2 linked regions of the Homo sapiens genome follow. The protein of the gene in region 2 binds, or shares a complex with, the protein of the main gene of each other region. Each region holds a gene or a part of one and is shown on either strand. Other genes may lie near its edges. A codon is read from its position in the direction of its gene.

What was found.
Region 1: the proteins of VCPIP1 (region 2) and VCP are in contact, whole or in part, in a cryo-EM structure (PDB 9DIL), measured with the Homo sapiens proteins. Residues at the interface, in NP_079330.2 of Homo sapiens: Trp609, Ser620, Asn621, Val622, Tyr623, Asp624, Gln645, His649, Leu652, Thr655, Ala656, Lys657; in NP_009057.1 of Homo sapiens: Asn589, Asp627, Asn750 (codon at 2,121), Arg753 (codon at 2,112), Lys754 (codon at 2,109), Met757 (codon at 2,100), Phe758 (codon at 2,097), Gln760 (codon at 2,091), Thr761 (codon at 2,088).

Annotation. Positions count from the first base shown.
Region 1 is NC_000009.12:35,055,323-35,059,142, forward strand, and holds the end of VCP (transitional endoplasmic reticulum ATPase), read right to left. Parts: coding exon 3,742-3,820; intron 2,209-3,741; coding exon 2,054-2,208; intron 1,901-2,053; coding exon 1,795-1,900; 3' UTR 742-1,794; downstream 1-741. UniProt on the Homo sapiens protein: Necessary for the fragmentation of Golgi stacks during mitosis and for their reassembly after mitosis. Involved in the formation of the transitional endoplasmic reticulum (tER).
Region 2 is NC_000008.11:66,660,412-66,664,231, reverse strand, and holds part of VCPIP1 (deubiquitinating protein VCPIP1), read left to right. Parts: intron 1-3,820. UniProt on the Homo sapiens protein: Deubiquitinating enzyme involved in DNA repair and reassembly of the Golgi apparatus and the endoplasmic reticulum following mitosis. Necessary for VCP-mediated reassembly of Golgi stacks after mitosis.

The sequences.
Region 1 (3,820 bases), on a different chromosome or scaffold from region 2:
AGTTCCTCAATAAACGAAGAGACATCTGTTTTTTGTACACGTGCATTTGTGAAGGATAAAATTTCTCAAGACCTCGTCTCTTTGGGAGACAATGCAGTGGTAACGCAACAGTTTTTGAACCATCTCATCAAGACTTAGGTTTTCTGTCACAGTATTACAGATGACCAGTTATATAAAGCTAGGTGCCCACAATTACCAAGCATAGTGACAAAGCATTTATACATTTCACTTTTTGACCTATTTCTTTATGAATGTTTCATCTGCTCATCACCGTTATATCCGTGCAACTGTCATTGGTATACCTGAGTGTTTATCTTGCAAAAATGTTACTATTCCCTATTTTATCGTGTAGTGGCCTATGAAACGTTCTGTTGTGTTGTTTCTCAAATAAATACGCTTTTAAAAATGTAAGTAAATTTTCGAAGAATGTTTAGTATTTCTTCCAGAATTGTATTTTGGGATTTTGACCTTTTGGGATTGTGATTTTCAGAATTTTAGACTTTAGGGATTTTGATCTTTGGAGATTACAGTATTTTATTCAAAATTACGGTGTTCAGGACTGTCTTTTGAGATTATGTCCCAAAGCCAATCAACATATATTTAATTTAGTAATTTATTTTCTCTGCACTACTCTCTCTCTGGGTAAGGCATCACTGTACTGACCCTAGAAGCACTAAGTGATTACTGTTGAAGAGGATAGTCTATTTTCTGTTTGGAAAAAAAAAAAATTCAATACTAAAATTTTATATTAACAAAAAGTTTTTTTTTTTTAATCAAAGTACATAAAATAAAGGTGGACACAACTGTAAGTGATCACCAACCAGGGGATGTTTGGGATTTTTAGATGCATTAAAAGAGAGTATAGAGAATATCCACCTGCAAGTAAGATTGTATTCTTTTGCAACCCTGCGATTTTCAAATGGCACCCCAACACAGTCTTTGGTCAGGATAAGGGATCCTGCAGGCCTAGCCTTACCGTCCACATCAAATATAGGTGGAGGGATGCCATATTCTCCACATTTGGAGCTCTGTCAGGCTGCTCCCTTTCCACCAGTCCTATCCAGTGATACTGCAGACAAAGGGTGAGGCAACAGGAGACATCATACCGATGTTGATCAGGAGAGGAAGAAGGTGCAATCTTACTTCCAGGATTTCACATTTGGAAGAATGCCTTGGGAGTGGTGGGTAGCCCAAGGCTGTTCCCAGGAAAAGAAGCAGGCACAGGGCCCAGGACTCAGGCTCCATTTTGACCCAACGTTTATTGTCCTTTTACAACATGTCATTTTTTGGTTTAGAAACTGCTTGTGATTAGTTTTCCAACATTAACTCAAAAGCATGTAAAATAAATCAACCTACTCTCTATATAAACATCCAGCAACTGTGGCCCCTACCCACCTACCCAGGTTGGATAGGGGGAAGGGAGGGCTCGGGCAGCATTGAGTCAAGTGCAGATGCTTTACTGTGGCAGGTGGCAGTAGTGCCTTGGTTCACACCCCACACAGGTCCCCTGCACTGCCCCAAACTACAACAGAAATGGCATAGGCCCAAGGCCCAATTCCCTGTTGGTAATTCACTCTCCGCCTACCAAATGAAAATCGCTTTTATTTTATCGCTTTTGTTTTGTATTTTTGCAACAGAAACCCCCTGTCCAGAGTCAGACTGTAGCTGAACTGTTCAGACTGGAGAATGGAGCAGGCTGTGGGCGCACCCCTGGTCCCTCTCCTGGGCAAGCGCCCCCACCCCCAGGGAACAAGGTCCAGGCAGGCCAGCTCACTGCACGCTGGCCACCACCACTTAGCCATACAGGTCATCATCATTGTCTTCTGTGTATACACTGCCACCTGTGCCGCCTCCACTGCCCTGACTGGGGCCAGCTCCACCCTGGTTCCCTGAAGGGAATCTGTGTACAAGAGCAAAGCCAAAAAAGAGGGTTAGGACAGGGCCTGTGTAAGATTTCCACAACTACCCCTCTAGCTTCCTTAGGACTCCCATCCCTTTTGGTGTAGGTCCCCAAAGTAACTTAAGCACTGTCTAATGCTCCCAACCAACTTACCTGAAGCTGCCAAAGCCCCGACTCTGCTGAAGGGTCTGGGCAAACATCTCATACTTCCGAATGTCATTGTCACTGACAGAACGGCGCGCAAAGCGCATGGCTTCTTCAAAGTGATCTCGACGGATCTCAGGCACTGGATCATCCTCTTCTACCTCCTATAGTTGGTAAACACAGATCACTAGGGCTAGTTAAAGCCCAGCCTGGATTTCATCCCAGGCCTCCCATTACTGCAGTTTATTGGTCTCCTTGCCCTTCCAATCCAACCTGAGGTAAGATGCTAGGCCATGCTTCCTAAAATTGAGTCACTGCTCTGCTTAAAAACTTGTCAATGCACTCTGGAAAAGGGAAAACTGTAGGGACAGAAATCACATCAGTGATGGGGCTTAAGGAGGGGAGATGTTGACTGAAGTGGCTAAGGAAACTTTTTGAGATAGTAGAAATTTTAAGTCTCAACTGTGGTAGTAGTTATAGAACTTACACACACTTGTCATAAAGCATGGAAATGGTATATAGAAAGAGTGAATTTTATTGTATTTATATCATACCTTAATAAACCTTAATACTTTAAAAGGAAATGCCAATGGCTTTCAGTGCTTACCACATTTGGATTACATCCTACCTAGCGGTCTCACTTCCAGTGACATATATACTCTTAAATCTACCCAGGGTTTCCCAATGATTGCAATCCTACTACTAGAGCACATTATTTGGGCTGCTTATTCCCTTTATTCAAATTCTACTCTCTTCACAGCCCAGCTCAAAACCTATCTCTTCCATTGAGAGGCCAATTTCTGTGACTTATGTGACTACCTCCTAGGATTAGTTCATCAGTAGTTGTTAAGCTTTTATGGGAGAGAGAAGGGATGTCACAGACCCTTCAAAAGGGAAAGAAAGCCATTTATTTGCTCATTAAGTCCCATGTTTGGAACTTAATGAATTAATTAAGGGTAACACAAGACATAGTGGAAAACAAGTGAGATGACAGAGATCTTACCTTTATGGAACTTACAAACACATGAATTTGCCTTTTCATTTTGGGAGGTCTGTGGACCCTATCCCTTCCCCAACCATCAGGGATAAGTATATGAGTCTCATCTCAGCTCAAAACCTTGCTCTGTGGTTCACGCCTGTAATCCCAGCACTTTGGGAGGCCGAGGTGGGCACATCACAAGGTCAGGAGATCGAGACCATCCTGGCTAACGTGGTGAAACCACGTTTCTACTAAAAAAAAAATACAAAAAACTAGCCGGACATGGTGGCATGTGCCTGTAGTCCCAGCTACTCGGGAGGCTGAGGCAGGAGAATCGCTTGAACCTGGGAGGCAGAAGTTGCAGTGAGCCAAGATCGTGCCACTGCACTCCAGTCTGGGCAACAGAGTGAGACTTCGTCTCAAAAAAAAAACAAAAAACAAAAAACAAAAAAAACCTTGCTGTGTTTGCTGCACTCTCATACTTTGATTTCCCTCATGGAGCTTGGTTCAGACTGAGAATGGAGCCTGACCATCTCTTCTCGGCCTTATTCCAAATTGAATGGATTCACCTCAGCATTCTTTATCTTTGATGCCCTATTAAAATTCTTCTCAGTTAGATGATCTTTCCAACAGCTTCTACTCTCAACTCCAGGGCATGGTGGTGGCTGCTGCCTGGCTCTCCATGATTGGCACATCTGGGGAAAGGATGCAGACTCACCATGGCTGATGGGTTTGTCTGCCTCTCTCGTTCTCGCCTAATCTCACTCTCGATGGATTCACGGATGGCCAGCTTGCAA
Region 2 (3,820 bases):
CTGATGGTATATCTTAATTGTAAATATAATACACTGAGTTTTCCTGTTATCTTTGGGGGAAAAGAAATCTGTAGCCATTGTAAGTTTTTAATTATATATTTCAGGAGAGAATTATTTTTAGTATTTTGAACAGTTGATAGATGTTAATAGGATTATTGAGTAACTATTAGGAAAATAGAAAGTTAAGGTAGTCCCTCAATAATAGTCAACAGATTATTTAAATATATCTTATTCTTGCAATTGCTTTTTAAAAAACAGACTTGTATTTATTTAAAGCGTTTTAAATTTTTTGGTAGGCTCTATTGATCCTGCCTACCTTGCCCCTTTTTCATTTATTTTTAATTTTTATTTTCCTGTATGTCATGTGATTTCAGCACTTCCTGTTTGATGAATTGCAGTTTCTGGTGTTTATATTCTCACTGCACTCCCACCTAGTAGTCTCTTACATTTCATTTTCTTCCTTTCCCAGTTCATCACATTTTTCTTTCTCATACACTAGGATTTGTATGTAAGTACACTAGGATTTGTATTTAAGTAATTTCACTACTCAAGTCTTTGCCATCAATTATAATGAACTGTTATAAGTTGTAGTTCATGAGAAACATAAACAGAGATGGATGGTAATGGTGTAAAGAAGTATTTGTTTTTAATCAGCATAAATTAAAGAAAAATATATTAACCAAATGTGTAATTTAAAGCTTTAGATGATTTGGGATACTGTTCAATGGTGTACTTTTTACAGTGTCTATATTTGCTTAGTCTTTGTTTTGAAATAACTTAGTATGCTTTACTAAGTCTTAAAGTATGAAGTAAAATTTAAATGTGTTAGTTACTGGAAGGGTTTTATTTTTGCTGAGATTAAAGCTTTCAACGAGAAAAGTCATCTGGGTTTTGATTCTGTTTTCTGATAGTACTATATGGCAGTGATTTGGGCCTTAATCTATCAAAATGAATACTACTCCTGGCTTATCTGGGGGAGTAGTAAATAGGGGATCTAAAAACCCTGCACAAATTTAGAACCCGGAATTGTTGATTTTAGTTTGCCAGACATAGTAATTGAATTGGGGAGTATGTCAGGAACTGTCCTACGCACTTTATATATTTCTTTTTTTTTTTTCTTTTTTTTTTGAGATGGAGTCTTGCTCTGTCTCCAGGCTGGAGTGCAGTGGCGCCATCTCGGCTCACTGCAAACTCCACCTCCCGGGTTCAAGCAATTCTCCTGCCTCAGCCTCCCAAGTAGCTGGGACTACAGGCCCACGCCTCCATGCCCAGCTAATTTTTGTATTTTTAGTAGAGACGGGGTTTCAACTTGTTGACCAGGATGGTCCTGATCTCCTGACCTTGTGATCAAGGTCACTTAAATACGAATGCTAGTGTACTTAAATACAAATCCTAGGTGGCCTGTGACTGTAATCCCAGATACTCTGGAGGCTGAGGCAGGAGAATCGCTTCAACCCCGGAGTTGGAGGTTGCGGTGAGCCTAGATCGCGCCACGGCACTCCAGCCTGGCGACAGAGCGAGACTCTGTCTCAAAAAATAAATAAATAAATGAATAAGTAAATAAATAAAAGACCTTCAATCTCCCAGGTCAAAAACAGGAAAGAGAAGATCTTCCTCAATAGAAGATGGACTCTTGAGAATGTGGCTCTTACCTTTATCCTTGTATGCACAGAACCTGATAATAGTGCTCAGCAGGTAGTATGCACTCTGAAATGTTTTTTAATTGAATTAAATAGATGACATTAACACAGCTAAAGAAAGGCTGTATCTGCAGAAATGGAATGGATGGTCAGTCAGCACTGAACATTGAAAAAAGTGAAAAGCAGAATTCGGCAATGTTCATATACTGCTGTACAAAGGAAAAAGGTACATCATCTGGGGTTCATGAAAATTCTGGTAACTAGAAAGGTAATCTCTGTCGAGGGGTAGGAATATTTGAACAATCCTGACTGTGGCCTGGCTGAAACATCTCTATCCCTTTGCCTGATTTCCATGTTCATCAGGCATCTATTCGTAACACTTATTTAGCTTCCTGATAACAAGTTTTGATGTACAGGTGACAGTGCAGATAAGGACGTGTTCACTTTGAAAGCTGTATTCTCCATTGTAGACTAATAAACGGACATGGGCAGGATTATGATCAGTAGTCTTAAAAATATGATCAGAGCCAGTCACGGTGGCTCATGCCTGTAATCCCAGCACTTTGGGAGGCTGAGGCGGGCAGATCACGAGGTCAGGAGTTCGAGACCATCCTGGCTAAGATGGTGAAACCCTGTTTCTACTAAAAATACAAAAAAAAAATAAGCCGGGTGTGGTGGCAGGAGCCTGTAGTCCCAGCTTGTCAGGAGGCTGAGGCAGGAGAATCTTGTGAACCGGGGAGGCAGAGGTTGCAGTGAGCCGAGATCGTGCCACTGCACTCCATCCTGGGCGACAGAACAAGACTGTATCTCAAAAAAAAAAAAAAAATCTGATCGGTATGATTATATATAGATTTTTGAGACAGAGTCTCACTCTGTCGCCCAGGCTGGAATGCAGTGGCGCGATCTCAGCTCATTGCAACCTCTGCTACCTGGGTTCAAATGATTCTCCTGCCTCAGCCTCCTGAGTAGCTGGGATTACAGGCATGTGCCACCACACCTGGCTAATTTTTTTGTATTTTTAGTAGAGACAGGGTTTCACCGTGTTAGCTGGGATGGTCTCAATCTTCTGATCTCATGAACCGCCCGCCTCGGCCTCCCAAAGTGCTGGGATTACAGGCGTGAGTCACTGTGCCTGGTTGATAATATATTTCATAATGAAAATTAATCAAATATAATTCTGGTGTATAAATACTTTCTGAGTTTGGTTGGAGGTTCTTGGACCTGAATATCTGAGAGAACCTAGAGTATGGACTGCAATGAGTTCACCAAGATAATGTCTTTCTATTCTGATCCCTTCCCTCTTCATATCCAGCATTTATGCCTGTATAAACCCACAAATTTCTTTAAAACTTCTTCCACTACCAACACAAAATTTGGGTGTAAAAGAGAGCATTGTGTTACTTTTGTAATGATATCACTTGAGATACTTTCTGCTTTAAATTGAAGTATTAAGTGCATAGCCTGTATTATATTAGTCCCTTATAAATCTTAGTTTTCTTCCTCTAGTTCGCTTATGACTGTATTTGAATTATGTAGAAGATTTTTTTTTTGAGACAGAGTCTCGCAGTGTCGCCAGGCTGGAGTGCAGTGGTGCGATCTCGGCTCACTGCAACCTCTGCCTCCTGGGTTCAAGCAATTGTCGTGCCTCAGCCTCCCAAGTAGCTGGGATTACAAGCACGTGCCACCACACCCAGCTAATTTTTGTATTTTAATAGAGAGAGAGTTTCTCCATGTTGGTCAGGCTGGTCTTGAACTCCCGACCTCAGGGGATCCGCCCTCCTCGGCCTCCCAAAGTGCTGGGATTACAGGCATGAGCCACTGCGCCTGGCCGAAGATATTCTTAATTTAAAAAAAAAGATGTTCCTACAAAATTCAGTTTGGGGATAAATACTAACCATATGTAAAGAGTACTGGGGAACTGTTGATGTTTAGATTGGAGAGGACTAGAAAATGACAGAGCTTGTTTAGAAGATTACAGATTTCAAAGTGCAGAAATTACTTTGTGAATTACCAAATGTGAGCTAAGCTGTGTTATGTTAGTTTAGAATATAGCTCATCAGACTTTATGCTGTTCAAATAGCTGGTTCTTTCTCGTTTAAGTTTAGGCTTAAATACCACCACCCTGTAAGGGTTTGAGAAAACTTTGCTGACCATTCTAAGTAGGTTCCCTCTATCAGTGT